Linked DNA regions of Homo sapiens. The protein of the gene in region 1 interacts with the protein of each later gene in a pairwise test. Each region holds a gene or a part of one and is shown on either strand. Other genes may lie near its edges.

What was found.
Region 2: the proteins of SRARP (region 1) and QRICH1 interact in binary tests that used the Homo sapiens proteins (3 or more experiments, as listed by UniProt).
Region 3: the proteins of SRARP (region 1) and FNDC3B interact in binary tests that used the Homo sapiens proteins (3 or more experiments, as listed by UniProt).
Region 4: the proteins of SRARP (region 1) and BANP interact in binary tests that used the Homo sapiens proteins (3 or more experiments, as listed by UniProt).

Annotation. Positions count from the first base shown.
Region 1 is NC_000001.11:16,000,406-16,007,235, forward strand, and holds the start of SRARP (steroid receptor-associated and regulated protein), read left to right. Parts: upstream 1-3,830; 5' UTR 3,831-3,898; coding exon 3,899-3,980; intron 3,981-5,513; coding exon 5,514-5,941; 3' UTR 5,942-6,830. UniProt on the Homo sapiens protein: May regulate the transcriptional function of androgen and estrogen receptors.
Region 2 is NC_000003.12:49,091,050-49,097,986, reverse strand, and holds the start of QRICH1 (transcriptional regulator QRICH1), read left to right. Parts: upstream 1-3,915; 5' UTR 3,916-4,075; exon of another isoform or gene 4,076-4,093; intron 4,094-4,376; exon of another isoform or gene 4,377-5,039; intron 5,040-5,530; exon of another isoform or gene 5,531-5,590; intron 5,591-6,937. Other genes in the region: QARS1 (glutamine--tRNA ligase), read left to right, coding at 1,908-1,958. UniProt on the Homo sapiens protein: Transcriptional regulator that acts as a mediator of the integrated stress response (ISR) through transcriptional control of protein homeostasis under conditions of ER stress.
Region 3 is NC_000003.12:172,035,488-172,042,599, reverse strand, and holds the start of FNDC3B (fibronectin type III domain-containing protein 3B), read right to left. Parts: upstream 3,023-7,112; 5' UTR 2,829-3,022; intron 2,070-2,828; exon of another isoform or gene 1,976-2,069; intron 1-1,975. UniProt on the Homo sapiens protein: May be a positive regulator of adipogenesis.
Region 4 is NC_000016.10:87,946,485-87,954,448, forward strand, and holds the start of BANP (protein BANP), read left to right. Parts: upstream 1-4,949; 5' UTR 4,950-5,031; intron 5,032-5,696; exon of another isoform or gene 5,697-5,930; intron 5,931-7,964. UniProt on the Homo sapiens protein: Controls V(D)J recombination during T-cell development by repressing T-cell receptor (TCR) beta enhancer function. Binds to scaffold/matrix attachment region beta (S/MARbeta), an ATC-rich DNA sequence located upstream of the TCR beta enhancer.

The DNA.
Region 1 (6,830 bases):
ACAAAAACTTTTAAAATTAGCTGGACATAGTTGCATGAACCTGTATTCCTAGCTACTTGGGAGGCTGAGGCAGGAGGATGGCTTGAGCTCAGGAGTTTGAGGCTCCAGTGAGCTATGGCTGTGCGCTGTGCACTGTGGCACGCACCACCAAGCCTGGCTAATTTTTGTATGTTTAGTAGAGATGGAGTTTCACCATGTTGCCCAGGCTCACCTAGAACTCCTGGGCTCAAGTGACCCACCTGCCTCGGCCTCCCAAAGTGCTGGGATTACAGGCGTGAACTACCGTGCCTGGCCAATAATAATTTGTAAATTTTAGAACAATTTCCAATGTATTGAAAAGCTGCAACGGTTGTACAGAGCTGTATACACCACATCCAATTTCCCCTATTGTCAACACGTTACATGACCATAGAATGTTTGTCGAAACTAAGAAAGCAACATCAGTACATTATTAGCGTCTAAACTCCAGGCTTTATTCAGATTTCACCAGTATTTCTGCAGTGCCCTTTTCAAGATGCAATTCAGGATACCTCCACTGTAGCAAGTTTTCATGTCTGTTTAGTCTCTTCTGGTCTGTGACAGTTTTTGTCTCCCATTGTTTTTCATGATCTTGAGAGTTTGGGGATTGTACATGTATTTTATGGAATGTTCCTCAGTTTGGATTTATCCAATGTTTTTCTCATATTTAGACTGGCGTTAGGAATTTTGGGGTAGGAGACCACAGACATAAAGTACCCTTCTTGTCCTATGGTATCAGAGGTGCCTGCTATCACGCGTGTCCAGTTACTTCTTTAAAAAAATTGTGGGGCCAGGCTCAGCGGCTTACGCCTGTAATTCCAGCACTTTGGGAGGTCAAGGCAGGAGTATCTCCTGAAGTCAGGAGTTGGAGACCAGCCTGGCCGGCATGGTGAAACTCCATCTCTACTAAACATACAAAAATTAGCTGGGCGTGGTGGCAGGCACCTGTAATCCCAGCTACTCGGGAGGCTGAGTCAGGAGAATCGCTTGAACCTGGGAATCGGAGGTTGCAGGTTGGAGTGAGCCGAGATTGCACCATTGCACTCCAGCCTGAGCGACAAGAGCAAAACTCCGTCTCAAAGAAAAAAAAAAACTGTAGGCCAGGCATGGTGGCTCACACCTATAATCTCAGCACTTTGAGAGGCCGAGATGGGAGGATTGCTTGAAGCCAAGAGTTCGAGACCAGCCTGGGCAGCACAGTGAGACCCTCCATCTCTACAAAAGGTTTTTTAAAAAATTAACCAGGTGAGGTGGCATGAGCCTGTAGTCCCAGCTAATCAGGAGGCTGAGGTGGGAGGATTGCATGAGGCCGGGAGGTCGAGGCTGCAATGAGCCATGACTGTGCCACTGTACTCCAGCCTGGGCAACAGTGAGACCCTGAAGGAAGCAAGACATTGTAGTAAGATATAAATAACCCAGTTACTTTTTAAGTCATGTAACACAGGCAACAAAATTTAGCTAAAATTTAATTTTTAAAATTTTCTTTGTTATTTGCATAGTGTATTAGTATTTTATTGATACTAAATAAATTATCAGAATTTAGGAGTTTAAAGCAACACAAATTTTTTCTCTATAGGTCAGAAGTTCAACGTGGGTCTCACTGCGTTAAAATCAAGGTGTTGGCAGGAAGGTTTCTTCTTGGAATTTCCAGGGAAGGATCCCTTTCTTTGCCTTTCGCAGCTTCTAGAGGCTACTGGCATACCTTGGCTCAGGACCCCGTCCTCCGCCTCCAAAGCCAGCAAGGGAGGGTTGAGTCCTCACTTCATATCTCTCTGGCCTTCTTCCGTTATCACATCTCTCTAATCCAGCCAGAAAAGGTTCTCCGATTTTTTTTTTTTTTTTTGAGATGGAGTCTCGCTCCCATCACACAGGCTGGAGTGCAGGGGTGCAATCTTGGCTCATTGCAACATCCACCTCCCAGGTTCAAGCGATTCTCCTTCCTCAGCCTCCTGAGTAGCTGGGATTACAGGCGTGTGCCGCCACGCCCAGCTAATTTTTGTATTTTTAGTAGAGACGGGGTTTTGCCATGTTGGCCAGGCTGGTCTCGAACTCCTGACCTCAGGTGATCCACCCTCCTCGGCCTCCCAAAGTGCTAGGATTACAGGCGTGAGCCACCACGCCCGGCGAGGTTCTCCGATTTTAAGGACTCATGTGATTAGATTGAGCTCACCCACGTAATCCAGAATAATTTCCTTTTCTCAAAATTCAAACTCTTAATCACATCTGCAAAGTCCCTTTTGCCAAATAAGGTAATATATTCACAGGCTTTGGGGATTAAGGCGTGGACATCTTTGGCGGCCAACTTGGCTACCAGGCATAGGTACCTCTTATTTCTGGAAGTGATACTGTTTCTATTTAATATAGCAATACCAAATTTCCTTTTAAAGTGCATTTCTTTCATCTGGGCCAGTAGCAGATATAAAATAAAATAGGTTAGGTGCGGAGGCTCACACCTGTAATCCCAGTACTTTGAGAGGGTGAGGCAAGCAGATCACTTGAGGTCAGGAGTTTGAGACCAGCCTGGCCAACATGATGAAACCTTATCTCTACTAAAAAAAAAAAAAAAAAAAAAAAAATACAAAAATTAGCCAGGTGTGGTGGCACACGCCTGTAGTTCCAGCTACTTAGGTGGTTTACACAGGAGAATCACTGGAACCCAGGAGGCAGAGGTTGCAGTGAGCTGAGATCACACCACTGCGCTTCAGCCTGGGCAACAGAGCAAGACTCCATCTCAAAATATAATAATAATAATAAAATTAAAATAAAGTGCACTTCTGGCCAGGCGCAGTGGCTCACACCTGTAATCCCAGCACTTTGGGAGGCCAAGGCAAGCAGATCACCTGAGGTCAGGAGTTCGAGACCAGCCTGACCAACACGGAGAAACCCTGTGTCTATTAAAAATACAAAATTAGCCGGGTGTGGTGGTGCATGCCTGTAATCCCAGCTACTCGGGAGGTTGAGGCAGGAGAATCACTTGAACCTGGGAGGTGGAGGTTTCAGTGAGCTGAGATTGTGCCATTGCACTCCAGCCTGGGCAAGAAGAGCGAAACTCAGTCTCAAAATAAATAAACAAATAAATAAATAAAGTGCACTTCTCTCTCTCTCTTTCTTTCTTTCTTTTTTTTTCTTTTTTCTTTTGAGATGGAATCTCGTTCTGTCACTCAGGCTGGAGTGCAGTGGCGCAAACTCGGCTCACTGCAAGCTCCACCTCCCGTGTTCACGCCATTCTCCTGCCTCAACCTCCGGAGTAGCTGGGAGTACAGGTGCCCGCCACCTCGCCCGGCTAATTTTTTGTATTTTTAGTAGAGACGGGGTTTCACCGTGTTAGCCAGGATGGTCTTGATCTTCTGACCTTGTGATCCACCCGTCTTGGCATCCCAAAGTGCTGGGATTACAGGCATGAGCCACCGCGCCCGGCCAAGTGCACTTCTTTTTCAGTAAAAACAGTTGGCTGACTTCAAGGACATGTGAATTAAGTAGCATTACGTATAGTTCCTAGACAGGGGAAAAAGCCAAACTGGTGGAACCACTGGATAATGACTGAGGTTTGGGAAACTGAGGCTGGATGAGAAGGTTCCAGAGGCCTACCCTAAATCAGGAAGCAGCTGCGCTTGGTAGAAATAGTGTCTGTTTGGTCTGTTTGGTAGGAGGCCTGCCTCCCATTGAGCCAACAATAATCCTGTTGACATAACCCTGTTGATCAAAGCGATCCCCTGACTGCTCTGGGCCAGTTCCTTTGGCTCCTGGTGGAATGCACTCAGAGAATCCGGATCCGGTCAGTATAAAAGGTCTGGTCCCGCAGTGGGGGAGCCACATCCTGGAAGAGTGGCCTAGGACAGCTCCTCTCCTGCCAGAGCTAGGCAGGCGCCGAAGTAGCCGCATGGCCCCGTCAGAAGACCCCAGGGACTGGAGAGCCAACCTCAAAGGCACCATCCGTGAGACAGGCCTGGAGACCAGCTCCGGTAAGAGGCGGCAAAGGGACCCCAGCCCCACAGAAACACCAGCTGGGGGCCAGGTGCGGTGCCTCATGCCTGTAATCCCAGCACTTTGGGAGGCCGAAGCGGGCAGATCATGAGGTCAGGAGTTCGAGACCAGCTTGGCCAACATAGTGAAACCCCATATCTGCTAAAAATACAAAAAATTAGCTGGGTGTGGTGGCGGGTGCCTATAATCCCAGCTACTCAGGAGGTTGAGGCAGGAGAATCGCTTGAACCCAGGAGGCGGAGGTTGCAGTGAGCTGAGATCGCACCACTGCACTCCAGCCTGAGCAACAGTGTGAGACTCCATCTCAAAAAAAAAAAAAAAAAAAAAAAAGCAAGACCAGCTGGGGGTGGGTGGGGGTCTGATGGCAAACATGCTACCTCCCTTGGGTTGCTGGGATTCTCCAGCCAAGGGCGGGCTCGTTTTATTTCCTGTGCTAGCCAACCTACTAGAACATAAGCTTCCTTCTGAGCCCACGTCGTGTTTCACAGCACGTAGCTAAGAGAATGGATGTGTATGTTATTTGGGTAACTCAAAAAGTTACCTTTTTAAGAGCACAGGCTTTGGATTCAGATACAATTGCTCAGACACCTGCTTCATTGATAAGTCTATTGGCTGGTTTGTCCATCCCTCTACCCTGTGCTGGGCTCTGAGCGGGGGGATTGCCAGGGCAAATGCCACCAGGTACTGATGGGATTCTCTGAGGCTGTGGACAAGATTATCTGGGGAGGGGGAGAGTAGCAAGATGCTCCCTGAGACCCACCAACACTTGTGCAGGCTGAGCCTCAGTTTCCTCACCTGGAAAGATGGCCAGGGCTTTCCTCTCTGGGGTTGAGGACTGTGCTTTTCATAATATGGTCCATGGACCAGCAGAATTGGCATCCCCTGGGGACTTGTTAGAAACGCGAGTCTCAGGCCCCACCCCAGCCCCACTGCACCAGACTCTGCATTTTAACAAGCTCCCCAGGCAGCTCATGGGAACAGCAAAGTTGGGAGGCACTGACATGTTGGACTCTGTGTTCCTGGAAGGCAGATGGATGGATGGTAAGTGGAGACTTGAACTCAGGTCTCTCTGATGCTGAAGTCCATACACTTAAACCCTGACTGTCCTCCTCTGTTGGTGTATCAACCAATCCAGTTGAACCCTATCGAATGAATAAACAAATGAATTCAGGAAACCATGTCCCAGTCGGGTGCAGTGGCTCACGCCTGCAATTCCAGTACTGATTGGGCTGAGGCAGAAGGATTTCTTGAGTCCAGGAGTTTGAGACCAGCCTGGGCAACATAGGGAAACCTCATCTCTACAAAAAATTTTAAAATTCACCAGGCATGGTGGCATGAGCCTGTAGTCCCAGCTACTTAGGGGGCTGAGATGGGAGGATTGGTTGAGCCCCCTGAGGCTGAGGCTGCAGTGAGCCATGACCTCCAGCCTGGGCGACAGAGTGAGACCCTGTCTCAGGGGAAAAGAAAAGTCCCCTGCTTGTGCTAACTTTTGGTCTTTTCCTCTCTTCTAGGTGGGAAGCTGGCTGGCCATCAGAAGACCGTCCCCACGGCTCACCTGACTTTTGTTATTGACTGCACCCACGGGAAGCAGCTCTCCCTGGCAGCAACCGCATCACCACCCCAAGCCCCCAGTCCCAATCGAGGGCTTGTCACCCCACCAATGAAGACCTACATCGTGTTCTGTGGGGAAAACTGGCCCCATCTGACTCGGGTGACCCCCATGGGTGGGGGATGCCTTGCCCAGGCCAGGGCCACCCTGCCGCTCTGCAGAGGGTCTGTGGCCTCAGCTTCCTTCCCAGTCAGCCCGCTCTGCCCCCAGGAGGTTCCCGAGGCTAAGGGGAAACCCGTGAAGGCTGCGCCTGTGAGGTCTTCAACTTGGGGAACAGTCAAGGACTCACTGAAAGCCCTCTCCTCTTGTGTCTGTGGGCAGGCCGATTAGCTGGAAGGGCCGGGCTCTGATGCCCAGAGGCTGCAATTCCCAGGGCCTGGCCCTGCTTCCCCAGCTAAGCAGGAGTCTTTTGTGCTTGAGCCAAGGAAACATCATTAGATCCGCTAAGGGGCATCTGAAACATCCGTCGAGTGGCAGAGGCAGGATAAGTCACCTGCACATGAAGAGACTCATTCATTCATACAGCAAATATTACTGGTACATCTTCCACATGCCAGGCCCTGCAAAGTGCTGGGGAGATACCATGGTTTTCCTGGAGCTGGTATTTTTGGGGTGGAGGGAACCCACCCTGAATAAATAAAGTAACCCAATAAATAAAGAAGATGATTTTGAACAGCGATGAATGCTCTGCAGGAACTGAAACAGGATGCTAGAGGGAGAGTGATTGGGGTGAAGACCTTTCCTGATGCAGTGCTTGGTAAGGGCCTCTCTGCGCAGGCAACAAAGTGTGATCTAAAAGATGAGAAGGGGCCAGCCCTGAGAAAATCCACCCTCCCCAGGGCCACCTGCTGTCATCTTACCCCAGGGCAGGCCAGAGCAGTGGTCAGAATGCCCCAGCATGACGGGGAGGGGCAACGGGTTTCTTGCTGCCATCTTGGCTCAGAGGCGAGTGTGTAGGTCACTGCAAAGGCAGGGGATACCACGTGGGGAGACTCGAGGGCCATGCCAGTTGGGGCTGGGAGGCTCAGGGAAGTTGGCTCCAGGAGACTCCATCCCATAAGGCAGCCCAGGTGGGACCTGGGGATCTGAGATGGGAAATAAGGGGATCTGGCTTCTCAAAAGGGAGGGAGGTACTCAAAAATAGAGTATCATGTTTGAACGAATGAAAACAAGACATGTTATTTATTGAGCATCTACTGCATACCAGGCTCATGCTGCC
Region 2 (6,937 bases), on another chromosome or scaffold:
TGACTTTACTCACCTGCCCTCATCTGCAGCAGTGACAGTGGCTGCCGTTCATTGTGCCAAGTGCTCTGCATACATTCCCTTAGTTAATCCTCACCACCTGAGGGAGTTGGTATTCATATTCTACTAGTGAGGAAACTGGCACTGAGGATAACTCCAGGCACAAAATTTTGTATGAAGGCTGCCTTTTTTTTTGAGACAGTCTTGCACTGTCGCCCGGGGCTGGAGTGCAATGGCACCATCTCGGCTCACTGCAACCTCTGCCTCCCAGGTTCAAGTGATTCTCCTGCCTCAGCCTCCCGAGTAGCTGGGATTACAGGCGCCTGCCACCACACCCGGCTAATTTTTTGTATTTTTAGTAGAGATGGGGTTTCACCATGTTGGCCAGGATGGTCTCGAATTCCTGACTTCATGATCTGCCCGCCTCGGCCTCCCAAAGTGCTGGGATCACAGTCATGAGCCACTGCACCCGACCTCTTTTTTTTTTTTAATTATTATTTTTTGAGGCAGGGCATGGTGGCTCACACTTGTAATCCCAGCACTTTGGGAGGCCAAGGCAGGCTGATCACCAGAGGTCAGGGCTTACCACCAGAGGTCAGGAGTTCGAGACCACCCTGGCCAACATGGTGAAACACCCGAAAGATATTATTTTTAATATCTTTCGTTAAGGCAGCTAATAACCTTTCTTTTTATTTATTTTAGAGACGGGGTCTTACTCTTGCCCAGGGTGGTGTGAAGTGGTGCAATCATAGCTCACTGTGGCCTCAAACTACTGGGCTCAAGCTATTCTCCTGCCTTAGCTGAGACTACATGTGCACACTACCATGCCTGGCTAATTTTAAAACTTTTTGTAGAGGCAAGTTCTCACTATGTTGCCCAGGTTGGTCTTGAATTACTGGCTTCAAGCAGTCCTCCTGTCTCAGCCTCCTAGAGTGCTGGGATTATAGGCATGAGCCACTGTGCCCAGCCACCCTGCCATCCTTTTTTTTTTTTTTTTCTTTTTTTGAAACAGTATCTCGCCCTGTTGCCCAGGCTGGAGTACAGTGGCACGATCTCGGCCCACTGCAACCTCCGCCTCCCAGGCTCAAGCCATTCTCCTGCCTCAGCCTTCCAAGTAGCTGGGATTACAGGCACATGCTACCACGCCCGGCAAATTTTTTTTTTTTTTTTTTTTTTTTTTTTTTTTTTTTTGAGACGGAGTCTCACATGTCGCCCAGGCTGGAGTGCAGTGGCACAATCTCGGCTCACTGCAAGCTCTGCCTCCCGGGTTCACGCCATTCTCCCGCCTCAGCCTCCCAAATAGCTGGGACTACAGGCGCCCGCCACCACTCCCAGCTAATTTTTTCTATTTTTTAGTAGAGACGGGGTTTCACCGTGTTAGCCAGGATGGTCTCGATCTCCTGATCTCATGATCCGCCTGCCTCGGCCTCCCAGAGTGCTGGGATTACAGGCGTGAGCCACTGCGCCTGGCCTAATTTTTGTATTTTTAGTAGAGACGGGGTTTTGCCATGTTGGCCAGGCTGGTCTTGAACTCCTGACCTCAGATTATCTGCCTGTCTCAGCCTCCCAAAGTGCTGAGATTACAGGCGTGAGCCACTGCACCAGCCCACCCTGTCTTTCTTACTCCTTAAAGTAGGGGGCAAACATGGTGGTTGTTATAATCCATATAAAACTATACCCTGGACCCCCACGGTGGTTGTTATGGTCCATATAATACTATAGCCTAGAGCCCCATTCAGTCCCTTACCCAAAGTCACAAAGTTATTGAGGACCCGGGCCTCCTGACCCTTAGTCCCTCGGCTTCTTTGGCTTAAGAAGGATGTTAGGGGGAGGTGTCTGTGGTGAAACCTGCCCAGGCCTCCCTGGCCTTGTTCTGGGTTGGTGGTCATCCTTTTCCCTCTGCCCTCCAGCTTGTCTTTAACCGAACTGTCACACTGAAGGAAGACCCAGGAAAGGTGTGAGCTGGAAGCACTGAACCTACCTCATCCTCCTGGAGGGTGTGGCTACCCTCGCCACCCCAAATTCCATGTCAATAAAGAACAGCTAAATTCTCCTAGAGTCTGTGTGTTATCTCTGCACTTCTAGCATCTGAAGGCCCTGAAGACATGCTGGTGGTGGTGGTATGATTGGGGGATGGAGATGTGCCTTTTGCACATTTTGTCTGTGAGAATGGACTTTCCCAGAACAGAGTGGTACTGACAGCTTTGAAAGCACCGGTGCACTTTTTGGTGCTTAAAGGCAGGGGCCTGGGTAGGATTCATACCCTCCGCACCTGGTCTGAGAGAATGGAGGGCCCTGGGGTGTTTGTCCATGGTTAGGACCCCTGTGCCAGAGGGATCTAAAAGGTTTGTTTCTGCTGGTGTGGAGAGGCCTAGCTCCCAGTCTGATCATTCAGCATATAATTTTTTTTTTTTTTTTTTGATACGGAGTTCCACTCTAGCCCAGGCTGGAGTGCAGTGGCTCAATCTTGGCTCACTGCAACCTCTGCCTCCCGGGTTCAAGCGATTCTCGTGCCTCAGCCTCCCAAGTAGCTGGGATTACAGGCGGGCGCCACCACTCCTGAATAATTTTTGTAATTTCAGTAGAGACGGGGTTTTGCCAAATTGGCCAGACTGGTCTGGAACTCCTGACCCCAGGTGATCTGCCCGCCTCGGCCTCCCAAAGTGCTGGGATTGCAGGCGTGAGCCACTGCGCCCAATCAGCCTATAATTCTTTTTTATTTTTGAGACGGAGTCTCACTCTTGTCCCCCAAGCTGCAGTGCAATGGTGTGATCTCAGCTCACTGCAACCTCTGCCTCCCAGGTTCAAGCAGTTTTCCTGCCTCAGCCTCTTAAGTAGCTGGGATCACAGGCATGCACCACCACACTCGGCTAATTTTGTATTTTTAGTAGAGACGGGGTTCACCATGTTGGCCAGGCTGGTCTCAAACTCCTGACCTCAGGTGATTCACCCGCCTCGGTCTCCCAAAGTGTTGGGATTACAGACTTCAGCCACCGTGCCCGGCCCATTCGGCATATAATTTTTGAGTGCCTACTACGTGCCAGGCAAAGTGAGATGGGGCATACGTGCTGTGGTGGCCTTCCAAGTTCACGGGAGGGGAAATGGGTGACCAAGCACTGTATGGGAGCGGTCTCCCTGGGGCCTGTGCAAGACTGGAAGAGGTTCCTGACCCAGCCTGGGCCTCAGAAAACATTACTCTAACGAAGTGACTTCTGAAGGGAATCACGAAAGACTACGGGGAGTTTGCCAGGATAAGAGGAACAAGGGCAAAAGCTCCGAGGCAAAAAGAGTCTACAGCAGGCTGGAAGCCCTCTGGGGGCAGTGTAGGCTGCTGCTGAGGCCCGAGTGTGCCTGCAGCTTTAACGCCTTCCACATTTTCCCTGTATACAAACACTAGGCTACCCGGGGGCCCGCTTTAAGGTGGACCCAACTGCGGAAGGCTGAACTCAGATGGCAGCAGACAGCGGGAGTACCAGATGCTGACTCCTCCAGGAGGTGAGCAACCTAGAGGCTTCCCAGGCAGGGCACGGCTGGGGACGCCAGGCCCAGGACAGAAGTTTGTGGGGTCCACCTTAAGCGAGAGGCCGAGCCTGGCCAGGCCCCGCCCCGCGTGGGCGTGCTCGACCAAAGGAGGCTCTGGCGGGCGACGGAAGGTGGGTCCAAAGAGCTAGCTTGGAGCCCTAGCCTTCCGAGACTCCACTACTAGGCCAAGCCACGGCCCTAGCTCCGCCCCACATGGAGAGGCGTCCATGGGCGGAGCGAGCCGCTCCATACCCTAGGATCCACTATCCGCTCTAGCGGCCAGAAGCGCGGCCACCTTCCCCTGCTGAAGCGTTCACTTTAATTTTGGCCGGTAGGCAGTCCCAGATCTCGCGGGATCCGACGCCCCGATTATCGCGAGAGGAGCAATCGGCTCCTATTGGCTGTGAGGGTTGAATGTAAGATGGCGCCCAGGGAGCTGTGAGGAGAAAACCCTGTCGGTCTTGGAGCGACGACGGCAGAACCAGGGTCCCTGGCGGTGCGGCGGGGCCGGCGGGTGCAGCGGAGGCGGCGGCGGCGGCGGCAGTGACGTCGCCGGGTGAGGGCTCCAGTGCGGGTGGGGATGCGGCGAAGCTGTAGGCCTGAGACGGGGGGCCCACCCCACACAACGGCGGGCGGGGGCGGGCGGGCCACTACCGCTGGGCCCTGGAGAGTTCGGGGCGGCTCCGGAGCCGAAAACGTTCCTGGGCTAGCGCACCCCGCCCTGTGGATGGGGGAGGGGTGGCCCGGGGATTTGGGTGGGCGCGGCGCGAGATGGCGCGCCGGTGCGGGCGCGCGGCTGAGCCTGTTTTTACGCGCGCGCGCTGTGCGGCTCTCGGTGCGCGTGGCCGCCGACGTGCGCGTTCCCGGCCCGGATATCTCTGCTCTAGGAGCTGTGGCCCGTGGGCAACCGCGGCTTTCTGGAGCGCGCGCCCGTGACGACCCCCAGTTTTGGGGCGCGCGCTCTGATATCGGGTGGCGGTGCTGCCTCGAGAGCGCGCAGGAGGCTTCTGCTGAGCAGAGGGCCGGCCGCGGCTCGTTGCGCTGGGAAGGTTGAGGATTGGGTCCTTTCTGGTCTGGTGACGTTCCCGGGCATCCGTGGCCTCGGCCTGGAGAGAAACCAACCAGCTTTGCTGTCTGGCTTGCGGTTCCGCTCCTCTGTGAGGGGGGCGAGATTGCCCGTTCTCCTCGAAGAATGCCGTTACTTGAGGCCCAAGTACGGTGCGGGTGCTTGGGTAGGGTGTTTCTCTGCTTCGGAAACCAAGCCCTCTTGGTTTGAGAGGGCAGTGAGCCCCTTCGGATTTCCTCACCTTGTACTGGGCTTTCTGCCGGGCAGGGAAGGTTAATATTAGAAGGCCCTTGAGTGGTACCTGCTTATCTTTCATTAGAAACTAATACGTCCATAAGCGTAATTCATACACGTCACCTCTGTGCGCTCCGGAAGGGAATTCGCTTATGTGGCCCATGTGAACTCCGAGCTCTAAAATGCCAGTTTAAATCCTTAAACGCAGCTTTTCTTTTGCGTAAGTGGGAGGGGCTTACTTTATTATATTAAAGGCCCACCTTTGCCTCAGCCAAAAAGTTGGCCTTAAACAAAATGGAACAACCTGAGAATCAGTGCTTTACCTTTTTTGAAATTGCAGAAATCCCAGCAGAAATTACTAAAATCTGATAGTGTATCACTGTAAAAGTCACTTTTGGTGTAGGATTTCAGTCCTTTTCAGCTCTTTTTTTGACCCTGCCGCTGTGTTTTGGTGTCAAGGAAGTTCTAGGTTTGTTCTAGAGAAATAGGCACCTCTTTTTTCTAATACAAAACATCTGCTAGTTTGATTTACAGTCTTGCTCAATTAAGCTTAAGGAATAGGAAGCTAAGAGGAAGTAAAATTAGCCATCAAATTTGATAATGGTGGGGTAGTTCTTTCTAATGTACTGTATTGTTTTTAAGAACAAAGTTAAAATTATTAATAAAAAGAGGCTGAGGATGGAAGGAACTTTTTTGTTCTATCTTCTTCAGAATATTAGAAGTCTTAAGAACTCAGGACAAGCAGCAGAAATACATGCAACATGGTGACTGGTGAGTTAAAATTGTTCATATCCTGGAAGTATCTGTGCACAGTTTTTTTTCTGGTAATACTGAAGCATTACAAATCCTGTCAATTCTGGGTGCTGTCTTCCAGAAACTATTAGGTGCTGTAAAATGAAGATGTGGGAGAACGGCATCTTTGAATTCAGCCACAGTTCGCTACTTGCTCAGTTTTCTCCTCTTAGGATATAAGTCAGTGGAACCCGCAGATTTAAGCGTTTGCAGGCTCAGCTTTTAAACGGACCTAAATGGTTCAAAGAAAAGCTGTAAAGTTTTTCTAGGATACACTTAAAATTTTGACTTTTTTTTTTTTTTTGAGACGGAGTCTCACTCTGTCACCCAGGCTGGAGTGCAGGGGTGTGATCTCGGCTCACTGCAACCTCCGCCTCCCTGGTTGAAGCGATTCTCCTGCCTCAGTTTCCCAAGTAACTGGGATTACAGGCATGCAGCACCACACCTGGCTAATTTTTTGTATTTGTAGTATAGACGGGGTTTCACCATGTTGATCAGACTGGTCTCGAACTCCTGACCTCGTGATCCACCCGCCCTCGGCCTCCCAAAGTGCTGGGATTACAGGCGTGAGCCACCGCGCCCGACCAAATTTTGATTAATTTTTTAGGCTTGCTTGTTCTGGGTTATCTTTATTTTTAACTATTAAGCTTGAGATCTTCCTTTTAAATTGGTGTTTATAAATACTTTTTCTCCAAGTTTGTCAACTAAGATTTACTTATTAGATGTCTTCCTTCGGGTCCTCTCTGATGAATTTTTCCTATAACTCTTCGAGAACCTCTGCAGTTCCACATCCTCTCTCCAGCTTATGTTGCCATTTCAAACTAAAGATCAAATAGTGGTTTAATTTTCTTGTAAATTTGAATTGCTCTAGGAAAGTAACCAAAGTCAGGGGCTCTGGATGTGGCTGCCTTTCTTTAAGGCAGCTTCAGAATCAGGGATGTCTTTCCTTACTTTGGATATGCTTTTTTTTTTGGATATGCTTTCTTTTAGTTTAATTAGTTGTGGTTTATACTTCATGTGCCATATTTCTTTCTTGTCTGCTTTTTAAATGGCCACTCTTGATCTGTAAGGGTCTCTGATTTCTGAATTAGCCTTAGAATTAGGTGTTACATGAATACCTGTTCTTTTCTTTTTATTTTTATTATTATTTTTTGAGACGGAGTCTCGCTCTGTTGCCCGGGCTGGAGTGCTGTGGTGCAATCTTGGCTCACTGCAACCTCTGCCTCCTGGGTTCACGCCATTCTCCTGCCTCAGCCTCCGGAGTAGCTGGGACTGCAGGCTCCCGCCACCATGCCTGTCTCATTTTTTGTATTTTTTAGTAGAAAC
Region 3 (7,112 bases), on another chromosome or scaffold:
ATTTTAATGAGATAATGTATAAAAGCACAGGAATTAGTGCTTAGTACACATCAGATATCCCAGAAAGGAGCTATTAACACAATCCTGTATTAAACTTTCGTCTATAATGGTGACCCTCAACAAGTCACTTTCCCTTCCCGGGCCTCATTTTCCAAACTGACAAGTGTGGTAAGTTCTTCTACTTAGCTCCTAATGAACTTATCCATCAAATGCTACCAGGTTAAATACTGAGCAAAAGGAGCACAAACTCCTACTGAGTGAACTGCTACCTAGCCTCCAAGGGCCTAGAGCTTCCTCACAGATCCCAAGCATTCTTCAAGAAACCGCAGAAGACTGGCTCTCCAATATAACCCATCGTCTGATGTGAGCTATTTATAAAGTCTGTATTAAAAGATTACCGGAATATCTTTCTGAAATTGTATATACTGTAATTAGAAGCTACAACCTCCTATTTCATGATGAGATCCTGCAGTTTTAGCATCTTTTAAATGAACGCTATCCTTACAGATGAATTTTTTTTATCTTAAAGTAATTTAAACCACAACACTTTAAAAGCACGTGTGAGTTTAAAAACAATTTTGTAATGACTGATTTTTTTTTTAATCAACTATGCCTCATTCTCAGCCAGCCTGTGGGTGCCCCTCTGGTATCTAAACAAAGTGAGAATTGTACCTTCATGGGTGAGGTCCTTTTGCAGGGCCAGAAACATGCCCAGAGACTTTATCCTCGTTAACAGCTGCTCCCAGGGAGCCAGGAAATTTACTGATCCAGTAAATTTCAGAGTCAGCCTCCAATGAGGGGGAACCAAGGGCCCCCACAAAAGGCACAAAACCAGCGCTCCCGGCTGCTATCCACTGTGGGGCGTTGCCCGGGCACCCAGGTTCATAGCTTTAACTTAGGGGTGGAGGAGCAACTCCGGCAGCAGAAATCATTACAGAGCGAAGCAATTTTGCCCAAGGCCTGAGGCCTCAAAAAAAAAGTGTTATTCCAGAGCAGATTCCTTTTCTTCCGGGTCTGTCTGCTCCTTCTGACTCTTTGCCCACAACCACCGTGCCTCCCCATTCCCAACGCCCCACCTCCTGCCACATTTATTTAAAAAAAAAAAAAAGAAGAAGAACAAGAACAAGAAGGAGGAGGAGGAGAAGAGAAGGAAGGAAGGAAGGAAGGAAGGAAGGAAGGAAGGAAGGAGAGAGAAGGAGAAAGAAAGAAAGAAAAAGAAAGAAAGAAAGAAAGAAAGAAAACGATTTTTAAAAAGCATATTCCCTCTCCCTTAGCTTTCCCTAGGAAGGCCTGGAAACTGAAGGAAATTCAAATCAAATTAGTTGCACATTAAAAAATAAACAGACAAGCAATCAGGGGGTGCCCACCCAACAAAAGACCTCACCCGTTCCAAAATATGATTAAGCCTGGGAGGGAAGAGGGGGAGGGGGGACTAGAAACCAGCAGGGATGGAGAGAGAAACCTGTGGATTTTTGGCCCCAGCGTTGGCCCATTGCGGCCAAATTCTAAATTTTGTTTAAATAAAATGCTGGGTTGAGGAGAAAAGAAAACAAAAAGTTATAACTTTTAAGGAAGTCTGCAAACGGCACTGTCTGGATAAAATGCCATTGCTTCCCTTCGTCTGGGATGGCAGGGTGGGAGCTGAGATTCCAAAAGCTCCAACTCCGACCGCGCACTCCTGGAAGCCTCCCCGCCAAAGGCGCCGCCGGGCGGCGCAGCCCAGTCTCCCGAGACGGCGGGCCCGGGTCCTCCGGTTCCCACGGGACGCCGGGACCCGGACCTCTGGGAAAGTTCGCGGGCACAGCCCGAGGCCCCACTTTCTGCCGAGAGTGACAGGCCCTTCCCACGCCTGCCGGCCCCAGCCCAGCCGCGGGCACCAGACGGTCCGCGCGGCCCCTCCTGGCCGCCTCGGGGCGCAGATTCCGCCCGCCCGCCCTATCCCCGGCCGAGGCGCCCCTCGGGGTGACCGACTGACCGGAGCTCCGCTGGCCCACACACCGGGTCGCCCGCTCCTTCCCGCCGCGCCCCGCTCCCCCGCCCGAGCTTCCAGCCGCCGGCTCGCCAAGTCCGGCCGCGGCCGCCGGTTACCGCCCCCAGCCCGGGGGGAGCCCGGGGGGCAGGACGGGGAGGAGGACGTGGCGTGCTCGGAGGTGGCCAGCAGCGGGGCGGGGAGTGTCCCGGAGAGGCCCAGCCGGGGACGGGGGGGCCAGGCCGGCGCGGGCTCGGGACCCTCCCCGCGAGCATCCCCGGGTTCGAGGCCCCCGACCGCCCCCGCCGGCGCGGAGAGGCGGCCCCAACTTCCAGCCCCACTTCGCACTCCCGCCCTCTTCCCTCCACCATATGGAAATCTACAGCCTCAGAAAGTGACACGTCGAAGATTCCTCGGCCTCGCCGCCCGCCCTCCCCCTCCTGGGCAGCGTTCCTGCCGCGGAGATTCCGGGAGGGGGAGCGGATTCCTCGGACAAAATCTGCTGGGAAGGCTGGGGGTGGGGGGAGGCCGCGAGCCACTGCCCAATTTTTTTTAAGAGGAATCTACCCGTTTCTTTCACTCCTCCAAACCCTGAGGCAGGGGGCACAGGCGGGGGACCCCAGCCCAGCAAGGCGGGGGCCGCCCCCTCCCGGGTCCCGTGTTCCCGGGGTGCCCAGGCGAGCACGGGGCGCCCCAGCACTCCGGCGCCAAGTTTTTGCCGGGAAGCCCAGGGCGCTCCCGGGACAGGGACGCACTTTGGCGGACTCGGCGTCAGGCCGGGGCTTTCCAGTGCACCGGGACCCGGCGATCGCGCTCGGGGTCCCGGTCTCCTCTAGTCCCCGGCTCTTGCACGCCTTACCTTCCCTAGGGCTGAAACGCGGGGCTCTGGGCGCGCCACACACCGGGTCGCCCACGCCTTCCCAGCCGGCAGCCTGGAGGATCCCTGCCGCCCCCTTCGCTGCTCCCGCCGCCGCCGCTCTCCTCCTCCAGCCGCCGCCGCCGCCGCTCAAATAACTACCAGGAGGGTTTGATGGGGGATTCCGCCATGTCAATGATGTCGGGACCACATGGGGATTTGGGGCCCGCCCATTACCGTAAACCGCCGAATATACCGGCCGCCACAATCGCAGACTCGCAGAAGCTGTTGTCCCCCGGCCCTGCCTAGCTAAGCAGAAACTCCTTTTGGTTCAGCCAGACTAAAGAAACCTGAGGCTTAGGGAACTAACAACTCCTGAATGGCGAGGGCTGCGCGTTCTGCAGATCGCCAAAGTAATATAAAGGCAATGTTTACTCAGTGATAATTAAGCCTAAAACTGACTTTTTTTCATTTACACATATATTTCGCTTTTTGTTGTTGTTAACCCCCACAGCAACCTTGTGAGCTATATTACTCCCACATTTCCCACAGCATTTTATTCATACAACTAACATAGTATGAGCAATTTTTATTATACTTAAGTTAAAATCTCTCTTTCCTCTTTCTTTTTGTTTTTTGTTTTTTGTTGTTGTTGTTGTTTGTTTTGGGGACTGCAGGCACGGGGCAGGCATGAGCCACCGCACCCTTTTTTTTTTTTTTTTTTTTTCCTTTTTTGGAAGAGAGGGGGTCTCAATAGGTTGCCCAGGCTGGTCTGGAACTCTGTCGCTCAAGTGATTCTCCCGCCTTGGCCTCCCAAAGTGTTGAGATTACAGGCGTGAGCCAACTCACCCAGCCTTATTTCACAATGCGTTTCTCAGGGACAAAGACTGTTTCTTACTTTTATCTTTATATCCGTAAAATATAGCACAGTGCAAGGACCACAATAGGACTCATTAAATAACTGTTGAGTTCATATTAAGTCAAATGTAATGTATTTCTGTTGTACAGGCTCTAAGAGGTTAACAGACTGCATCCCATGCCACCCCTCAGATTATTCAGGAGACAAGAGAGCAAAAGTTAGCCTAGAGAAGCCCCTTCCATCCATAGCTGTCCAGGTATTCTGAATAGCTACATTCAGCCTCAACTATTAAGCTACAAAGGAGCATTCAGGGAGTCACTAGAGACAATGTATTACTTTTGTTAACCTAAAAAATAATAATAGCAGTACATAATACTCTGTTAAAGTCTAAAGAACACTAAGAAATAGCTCCTTCCTTCCCTTGTTCATTTGCCATTCTTTTGGGGAGATTTTAGCCTTTTTTTTTTTTTTTTGGAGGCAATGGTGAGTCCAGAGAAATGGGGACCTCTCTCCTAAATGGCTTATTTACTGTGGAGCTCCTCAAAGGGGAACTTGAAGCCATCTTTCTATAACATAACTCCAATTCTAGGTCATAGTCCTGCATGAGAAGCCGGGGCGGGGGGTAGGCAGTAGTTCCTTAGTGCCAATAGGGTACAATCCAATAGATCCCATTTGAGTCCAAATGCCTTCTCTGGCTCCAGACTCTTTGGCTTCCTCAGGTGCCATGCCTTCAGCCCAGCTGATCACTCATGGCTCCAGAAGGTACCTGTGTCCCTTTGTACGTGCCTTCCCTCTGAAACATACTTCTTCTTCCCTATTTAAGATCATTTACTCATCCTTGATCTCCGGCTAAAACCACTCCCTCCTTTCCTCCCTACAGTCTCATACCTCTTTTCCCCACAATCTTATAATCCTTGTCAGTTCTCACATTGCTCTGAAGTTAGTCTTTTTTTTTTTTTTTTTTTTCTGAGGCTAGAGTGCAGTAGCATGATCGTAGCTCACTGCGTCTTCAAGCTCCTAGGCTCAAGCGAGTCTCCCACCTCAGCCTCCCAAGTAGCTGGGACTACTAGTGTGTGCCATCACGCCTGGCTAATTTTTTTTTAATGTTTCTTTTTTTTTTTTCATTTTTGTTGCCCAGGCTGGTCTCAGACTCCTGAGCTCAAGCAATCCTCCTGCCCCAGCTCCCAAAGTGCTGGGGTTATAGGCATGAGCCACTGTGCCCAGCCTGAAGTTAGTTATACTTTATCTCTTCCACTTGACTGAGTTTTGTTCATGTTTGTATCCCTAGTATCAACCTAGAATTCTGCTTTGAATATAAGACCCCTTTGTGTTTGGTGAATGAATTAATTGTAAAGTATGTGGAAGAATCTGAATGACTAGGTAAGTGAGCAAACTTCAGAATGTGAAAGGTCAAATTCAGGTTGAAGGACAAGCTTGGCAAAGGAGGTAAAAGTAGGCAAGGGAAGTTTGGAGGACAAAGTTATTTATTCCTGTTTCTTCCACTAGACTGAATTTTTTCTTATTAAGAAGAAAAAGTTTCAATTTTCATATAATGCTTTATAATTTCACATGCATGTTCATATATATGATCTCAGTGTTTCATTCATCTTCTTTGCCCTAACACCTAACACCAGTTTTGGCACAGAAAAAAAGCCCATTAAATGTTTGCAAAATGAGAGGAAGTATGGTACACTGGAGAGAGCATAGAACATAATGAGAGAAAAGGAGTGATGTTGGGCATAAAGTTCTCTGAACCTGAATTTTCTTATTTGTTAAATTGTGATCTTTAATAAACCTTCTGGTCAAGGTTGTTGTGAGGATTAAAAAACTCAAGCACCTGGTACTCAGTAAATAAATATTGGTTACTCCTTGAATGAATGAATGAATGAATGAATGAGTAAATGAATTAATAAAGATATATTTCTTAAAAGGATTAATAGGACAGAATTGGAAGCTTCAGAGAAAAAGGTGGAATTTGTGATAGAGGGCTCTCACCTATACTTTGAGGGATTTAGATTTAATACAGTGAGAACACTGTGGGATTATTGAGGCATGAAGTAATTAAAATAGGTTTCAAGGTTATCTTAGCAGCAGGATATAGAACAAGGCTCATGTCAGAGATGCATGCCCTGAACCTACTTTGGAAATGATAAGACTTACACCAGAGTCATGGTTCTGGGAATAGGAAGAAGGACCTCAACCTAAGGCAATGAGTATGACTATCTGGTGTTGACAACCTGCATAATCTGCTGCTCTAGGTCCCAAATTATGAAACTATAGTCCTGGCTAAAACTTTGCTCCAAAAGCACCTTAAGATTTGCTCAAATACAAAAGTTAACATCCAAATGAAGATGCCTAGAAGTTAAGGCCTATAACAAAATATAGAGACTCTTAAACCCTTCTACCACCTATGCAATGTAGGCTGAGTCCAAATTTTAAAAAGATTCTTAGTCATACTTCTTCATCTCAAATAATTTATATCAAAAAATGCAACAGTAGTACACAGGAAAGAATGAAAGTATTGAAGCTAGCATTGAAAAGGTCTCAAACAATTCAACTTTTCTGAACACTTCTGTAGTCTAAAATGTTTAAATTTGAAACTCTCTCTCAAAGATCACTATGACTAGTAACACGTAATATCTACAAGACCCAGCTGCATTCTCAGTTTCAATGTCCTTCTTCTCCCTATAGCTCGAGTTGCTAGGTTCCCAAGGCAGGCTCAGTTCTGCCCCTACTCTTAAAAACTGCTCTTGACCACCAGGCATGGTGGCTCATGCCTGTAATCTCAGCACTTTGGGAGGCTGAGGCAGGCGGATCACCTGAGGTCAGGAGTTCGAGATTAGCCTGGCCAGCATGGTGAAACACAATCTCTACTTAAAAAAAAAAAAAAATACAAAAATTAGCCTGGTATGATGGCAGACACCTGTAATCCCAGCTATTTGGGAGGCTGAGGCAGGAGAATCATTTGAGCCCAGGAGGCAGAGGTTGCAGTGAGCTGAGATGGCACCATTGCACTCCAGCCTGGGCAACAAGAGCAAACTTCCATCTCAAAAATAATAATAATAATAATAATACTCTTGACCCTAAATAGAAGGCATTAACTCTTTGCATCTACTACTTATTCTAATGTCCTGAGCCATATCTGACACCAGCTTCAATATGAACACTGACCAAAAGCCAATTCATCTTGTTTTAAAAGCAACACTGCCACTTCAGTGAAGCACATTTCTCCAACAACTTCACCAGTCACATCTGTGGTTTTGCCGCCTTTTCTATTGTTCAAGGCAAGATAAGCAAATTTTAGCTCAATGTTTTATTTAAAGAAAAACACATTTTAAACAAAGAGATCTGTCCCACAGTTACCAGAACTATTCAGGTAGAAGCTGAATGATTGACAGGGCTCTTAAAAATCACAGGTTGATAGACTC
Region 4 (7,964 bases), on another chromosome or scaffold:
GGCCAAGACAAAGGAGAAATCAGCCAAATTGCTGGGCCTAAGCAATGCCACTCTCTCTCTCTCCTCTCTCTTTCAAATGCATGTTACTACGCAGATAGTAAGGGTCTCTGTGACCTTTACAAATGGCCTGGTGCACACACGTGTAAGCGGCCCCCATATTTGAGGCCTTGCTGATCCACTTTACAAGTGAGGAAGGTAAGGTACAGGAAGCGTAGGTTGTTTCTCCAGTTTCAGAGGGCACCGTATCCACACAGCAGTGACTGGGTAGGTCCTGGTCTCTCTCGACAGCCCAGAGTGTGTGGCCTGTCCCCGGAGAGGGTGGGATCCACGCCAGGAGGGGCTGAGTGGTGCTGACTGCCACCCCCTCCCATCACCCCTGGATCATCATCTTGTTTTCCAGTGGGGTCTCCTTTCAGGGCTCTAGTTCACCCCAAAGCTGACCTCTTCCAGTGAGACCTTCAAACCCTTACAGTGCCCTTGCATGAAGTGGCAAAGTCAGGGGAGGGGTGGAGAGTGGAGGATGAATTACAGAAGGAGCCCCCCTGGGGGGAACAATTGCAAAGATGTGTTTTCAGGGACAGTCCTCACGACCGTGGGCGGTAGCCATGACGTCCGGTCTCCCATCTCCTGGAGCTGTGCATCCACCATCCAGTACAGCACCTGGACACTCCCTCTCCCTTAGCAGTCCCCAGCATCGGGCTCATGGGCAAGTCCTGTGGATTTCACTCTGTGGAACCTCTCCAATCTGTCCATTTCTCTTCATCCTGTCTGCACTGCAACCCCCTGCAGCAAGCCTCCGTCTCTCACTTGGAGCCTGTCACAGCCTTCTCCACTGCTCTCCTCAAATTCATGCAGGATAATGTATTTCCTCCTCCCATTCCTTTTCCAGCACTCCAGCCAGATGGACTTTTCTTTTTTTTTGAGACAGAGTCTCGCTCTTGTTGCCGAGGCTGGAGTGCAATGGCGCGATCTTGGCTCACCGCAACCTCCACCTCCTGGGTTCAAGCGGTTCTCCTGCCTCAGCCTCCCGAGTAGCTGGGATCACAGCCATGCGCCACCACACCCGGCTAATTTTGTACTTTTAGTAGAGACGGGGTATCACCATGTTGGTTGGGCTGGTTGCGAACTCCCGACCTCAGGTGAGCTGCCCGTCTTGACCTCCCAAAGTGCTGGGATTACAGGTGTGAGCCACTGTGCCAGGCCGCCAGATGGACTTCTCAAAACACAAATCTGATCCTACCCACTCTGGCCCCAAACTTTGTAAAGTCTTCCCCATTGCCTCAGGAGCAAGACGACACCCCTTCCTCGCTGACAAGGACGCAGTTGTGCCTTCACTACCTTTGCTGCCACATCTCACCACCTGCCTCCTCTCGTCTCTACCCCCACTGTGGCTGTGTGACCCCAGGTGTATTGCTCAACCTCTCGTGTCTTCCTGTTCTTCACAAAGAATAGGAATTACAGTGAAATGTGCCTGGCTCATGGGCACCCAGCCCATGGTAACATGAGCACATCCGGAATCAGACTCTCTACTAAACGCTTCATCACCTCCATGCCATGGACCCCTCCCAATATCCCTGTGAGCTGTGAGATCTAAACACCAGTTCCCAGAGTGGGAAGCGAGGCCTGAGAGCCTCAGCAACTTGCCCAGGGAAGGCTCAGACTCTAGCCCTGGCCGGGCAAACTCCAAGTCCTCGCACTTAAGAACAACCAGGCTCAGCGTTCCAGCATTCCACTCGGCCTCCTGGGCTTTTCCTGGGCCACCGAGTGCATCGTGTTTACTTTCTCTTTCTCTACCCTAGTGACATTCTCAGAAAGAGGAACCGTCGGAAGGTTCCAGGGTTTTCTTGATGTGGGCATTTCGAGGTGTTGACAAAAGGACCTCTGTGACCTTTACTTATGGCCTAGTGCACACACTTGTAAGTGGCCCCCATATCTGGTGCCACACAGGCCAGAGTGCACTTCCCGCTCCTCTTATAATGCCCTCACTAATGTGACTGTAACTTCATTAACTCCAGGCCAGATTGGATCCTTGTACCGACTGGTGAGTAAGCGAACCTTCACTACAGACAGCTGTCTTTGCTGATGACTAGCTACTTCATTTTTAAAATTACGGTGAATCAACTATATGCCAATATTGAACAATGCCTTCCTTTTTTAGCTTCCTGAGCAGCAAAATAAAAACTAAATCAAAACCATCAAAAATAAAAAAGTGTAGTAGCTCATGCCTGTAACCCTAACACTTTTTGGGAGGCTAAGGCGGTAGGACCGCTTGAGTCCAGGAGTTCAAGACCAGCTTGGACAACATATTGAGACCTCTGACTCTACAAAAAATAAAAAAAAATCAGGCAATGGTGGTGGTGCATGCCTGCAGTCCCAGCTACTCTGGAGGCTCAAGCGAGAAGATCACTTAAGCCCGAGAGGTAGAGGCTGCAGTGAGCTCTGATTGTACCATCGCACTCCAGCCTGGATGGCAGAGCAAGACCCTGATGCAAACAAAACAAAACAAAACAAAACAAAACAAAACAAAACAAAACAAAACAATCACTAACTGCAGCACAATCATAGTTTTGATTGGCTTAATTTCTGATAATGCCTAGTCAGCAGTGGCCTTCAACAAACCTCACTGTAGCTTGTTGGATGGTCACAGATGGATTCACCTTTGCCCACAAGTTCCTCCTCTTGTCCACTCACACCTGTTCATGACGCCGAGCCCAGCATTGCACAAGGCCTGGGGATAGGGGAAGTGCAGCTCCAGACACGGACTTGGGAATGTTTTGAAACAACAGGAACGACATCACCCTAGGTTTGTGTTTTCAAGCCAGATATTCCGGCGTGGATGCTAAGAATTCTTACATGGGCAAGTATTAATATTTGAATGCAGCCGTGATTGAGGTGGAGGTGGAGACAAAAGGCGTGCGTCCCTAGAACATGTTTTGTCCCCACTGCCGGAGGGAATATTCTGTGTCAGCTATCGCACGCACCCTTTCCCTCCATGTGAGTGGACTCCACACTCTAAGCAAGGCGCTCTGGACTGCAAACTCAGCTTGTGCCTCTCTCCAGCCCTGTGGCCTCGCTGGACAATTTTTCTAATCTCTTTGGAGCTGATCTTCATGTTGAAAAAGGACAAGTCCCATCTTCAGATCAACACCTGTCCCAGCGCTGCCATTTTGCCAAGGCTCCTCCTTGGAGTGTTTGTAAGGCACTTTTGCCACGAAGTAACCCAGCCACCAGCCTCAGTGGAACCTCCAAGCCTAATTCTGGAGGAGACTTTAACTCGGTAAGGTTGCCCAAGGTCGCATAGCCCATGACTGCGCTGAATCCTGTTTTTATTATTGGCAAAAGGGAGTTGGGCAGGAAATTCAAGGTAAAGCATTTTGTTTTTCTTTCTTTCTTTTTTTTTTTTTTTTTCTTGAGACGGAGTCTCGTTCTGCTGCCCAGGCTGGAGTCCAGTGGCGCCATCTCGGCTCACTGCAAGCTCCGCCTCCCGGGTTCACGCCATTCTCCCGCCTCAGCCTCCCGAGTAGCTGGGACTACAGGCGCCTGCCACCGCGCCGGGCTAATTTTTTGTATTTTTAGTAGAGACGGGGTTTCACCGTGTTAGCCAGGATGGTCTCGATCTCCTGACCTCGTGATCCACCCGCCTCGGCCTCCCAAAGTGCTGGGATTACAGGCGTGAGCCGCCGCGCCCGGCCAGCATTTTCTTTTTCCCAGTGAAAATAGCTGCCTCGCCCTGTGTTTGGGAGCTCAAAGGCATTCTTGCTCATTGCAAATAATTGAGGAAACAGAGGCGAGTATAAAGAAGAAAATGAAAGGCAAGGTAATCCTAGATTAGCAGAGGGAGATAACCAGGAATGACATTTCTGGGAACTGCGCTATGGTTTGGGAATTTTTTCCTGTGATTACCCACAAACGCACATTTGCACATTTATTCTACGTGTGCACATTCACGTCATCACTTTTTTTTTTTTTGAGACAGAGTCTCGCTCTGTCGCCAGGCTGGAGTGCAGTGGCGCGATCTCGGCTCACTGCAACCTCTGACTCGCGGGCTCAAGCGATTCTCCTGCCTCAGCCTCCCGAGTAGTTGGGATTACAAGGCGCCCGCCACCACGCCCGGCATAATTTTGTATTTTTAGTAGAGACAGGGTTTCGCCATGTTGGCCAGGCTGGTCGCGAACCCTTTACCTCAGGTGTTCCGCCCGCCTTGGCCTCCCACAGGGCTGAGATTACAGGCGTGATCCACCGTGCCCGGCCGCCATCACTTATTTATATTATGTGTTACCTATAGGACTTATCTAAGACCATAATCACTGCCGCGTGTGCTAAGTCCCGCGCGCGTGCACTCAGGCCCCTCTGGATAGACACTGGGGACCCCTGACCACTTATGTCAGGGAAAACGCCACCAAGCGCTCCGGAACCTCAGGGCAGGACCCGCCGCAGCAGCAGGTAGGACCCGCTGGGGGCGCACAGCCCACCTGAGACATCGTAACTACAAGTCCCAGCAACCCTTGGTGCGGGGACAGGACGGGCCACCGGAGTCCGGAGAGACTACAAGTCCCGGCAGGCATGGCCCAGACGCAGGGACTACGAGTCCCCGAATGCATGGCTCCCAGCTTGCGCAGGGCACCCTGGGAGGTGTAGTAGTTGAGGGAGCTAATGCGTATTCATTCCGTCTCAAAGAAGATGCAAATTCCTCAGACCGTCCACTGAGGTGATTGTTCTCACGCAGGCCATGGGCGTGGGCGAAAAACGGGGGGAAAAAAGCCCTGGGAAGCCGGTACCGTCGCGGAAGAAGGCCGCCTGCGCATGCTCACCAGGAGGCCGAGCGGGAAAAGCGCGCGCAGCTGGCCTCACTGCCACAGGGGTGCCCCGCCCCCGGGCCCGCGCGCCCAGTGAGCCTGCGCGGAGGGCGGGGGCCGAGCGTCGCGGGGAGGGGCTCGCGGCGCCTGCGCAGAGCGGCGGCTTCTCTCGCGAGGACGGACGCCATTATCGCATCTCCCCGACAAACACCACGAGAATTCCGCAGCCCACACGGTAATTGCAGCTCCCGCAGCCGGTCGCGCCTCCGCCTCCCCCTTCCCGCGGGGCGAGAGCGAGAGCGAGATCTCCCTCCTCCCTCCTCCTCCCGCCCGCCGGGCCGCCCGCGCCGCAGCCCCGCCGCCGCCAACCGCCCGGGCCGGGCGATCGCCCCCCGGGCCCCGCTCCCCGTCCCCGGCCGCGCCCCGGAAGAGGGGCTCCCGCTTCCTCGCTTCCGCACCCCCGGCCCCACCGCGCCCGGCGTCCGTTGAGCCGCGGCTGCCGCAGCCCGGCCCGGGGGCCTCGCGCTCCCGACCTCTGTCCCGGGCCTCGCCCCGCGGGAAGGACCCGGAGCCACGGCGGGGAGACTGGAAAGGCCTAGAACCGCGCCCGGGCTCCTCTGGGGCCCGAAGTCTCCCAAGGGGGTCGCTCCTGCCAGCCAGGCGGGAGCGACAGGCATCGTTTTTGTGCCTCCTCCGTGGCTGTGGACCGGAGCCCCATAGCCCAGGACTTGCACACGCAAGGGGCGCTCTCGGGGACCGCAGACCTCGGCGACGACCCCAGCCCGTCCCCCGAGGGGCCCCGATGAACGAGGACCTCGGGGTGCCCCCTCCCCAGCACGTTTGTGCGATTTCTGTGATCTAGTCCTTAAGGAAGGTGGCCGTTTTCTTTTTCCCCCCTAGGATGCAGAAAGTAGATGACATTCCATCCACACTGTGTGAGCAAATTGGAGAGATTGCCTTGATAGAGGACTGATGTTTTTCACTGATGAGATGGTAGGGGTTGTCTTGCTATTGGAGAAATACATCATCCCTGAAGAACTGTGAGCAAGTGGAGCGAGTGTGGGCTTTGAAGGGTAGCGAGCTTGCACCCTGACCGGGGAGGGCCCGGGTCACACAGTTGTTGATGTGGAACAGGTAATTGCCCTGTTTGGAGTTGCCTGTTCTGCCCAGGAATGTACTCCAGGGCCTGATGGCGATGCTGGAACTCGCACTACAGTAAATAATTGATAAGAGGAGGCAGTTGTAGGGTTCACTTTTAGCTGGAAGTTCTTAGGGGACAGAAAAATAACTTGGAGTAGTGAGTGGTTCTGAGTAAGCTCAGGAAACGTCAAATAAAAACTGGATCTGGTCATTTAACACGCAGCTCGCAGATATCCAGTGCTAGAAGAAAACACCAAAACGCGGTAAAATTCTGTATGTGGGTCCACTTCCCGTGTCTGGCGATTAAAATAAGAATATATTCTTGCGATGTTGGATTCTGTCATCATTGGCGTTAATATTTTTATTTTTTTGGAGATAGGGTTTCACTCGGTCCCCGAGACTGGAATGCAGTATCGTGATCTTGGCTCACTGCAGCCTCGGCCTCCCTGGCTCAAGTGATCCTCCCACCGCAGCCTCCTGAGTAGCTCGGACCACAGACGCCACCACCCCGGCTAATTTTTGTATTTTTCGTAGAGAGGGGGTTTCGCCTTGTTGTCCAGCCTGGGGCTTTAATCTTTTTAAAAAAGAGCTTCCATTTGTGATTCCACGCTGCGTGGGGGCAGCTCAACATCTCGGGTGCTTCATCATGACCCAGGAGGCAGAGGCTGCGTCCACTTTATAGATGAGGTGACTAGGCCCGCAGACACTAAGGGACTTGCTCAGATTTACAGAGCCAGGGTTCGAATTCAGTCTGTCTGAAGCCTATGTTCTTAAAAAAAAAAGCCCATATATTTAGTATTTTAATCAATATAATGTATACAATAGGAACGTCAATGAAAGACTTACAATGAAAAGCAATGGTCCCCTGCCCCACCTCTCAGCCCCGTTCTTCAAAGAGGTTTACATCTTGAGTGGTTTCTTTAGGTCATTCTCCACAGCTCTGAGTAAGCTGATCCTTTTTATTTTTTTCTTGAGATAGGATCCCCTGATGTTGCCCAGGCCGTACTCGAACTCCTGAGCTCAAGTGATCCTCAGCCTCCTTAGTAGCCGCTAATACAGGTGTGAGTGACTGCACCTAGCTCTAAGCTGATATTTTGTATTACACAGCCTTGTCTTTCTATTACGATGGGGTGATGGAGCCCTTCTGTCATATCCCAACTCTTCTATCCCCTGGACTGTCTGTGTTAGGCCTATGCAAATACTGTTCTCTTCACGGACAAATTGAGTGTTTCCCTTCCTGTACAGCGTGGATTTTTCTGTTAGTCATGGCTTTTCTCTTGGCACTTTCTGTTCCCATCGACTCCTTACATTGTTTTAAATTCTCAAGGATAGTGTCAGGTCCCCTTTCTCCTTCAGCCCCTGTCCTTCTCATCTGGATGGGTTAGCTTGCACACGAGCCAGCCTGATATTTTCCTTTCTTCTGTAGCTGGGTATGTTCAGGAATGTTTTCATCTTGGCTCTGTTCGTTTCCACAGGAACCTCTGGCAAGTGCTCTTCCTCCTTGTGGAGACCCCTCTCCCTCCCTGAACGCTCTTGGATCTTCTCTTTGGTGTTAATGATGTTTTACCCTTGTGTGTGCTGAGGTGTGTGGATTCCTACGCCGGGGACTCTGACTCTGGTGCTTTGTCCTTCAGCTCTGGGAAGTTCCCTTGTTCTGTCTGAGAAGTTCTTCCTCTCCAGCTCTGCTCTTCTGTCTTAGGAGTTCCTGTTTGTGATGGACGTTCTAGGTGGAGCCCTGGAGTTGCGTCTTTATCCTTCCTTCTGTGTCTCGTTTATTCTCATTCTGGGAGAGGGCTTTAATATGTGTTCACAATCAAATTTTTAATGTCCAAGCATGTATTTGTCTTGTTTCTTTTTCATAGTAGCTTATTGTTACACAAGTGCCTCATCTCCATGACTCTAAGGAAACTAATAAGGATTCTTCCCAGCTCTCCTTTGTTCTGATTTCTTGTTTCCACTAATGTCACTTAAAAAAAGTGTTGGCTTCTTCCTCTTTATGGCAAGTCCTCCATACTGATGTTTACTGTT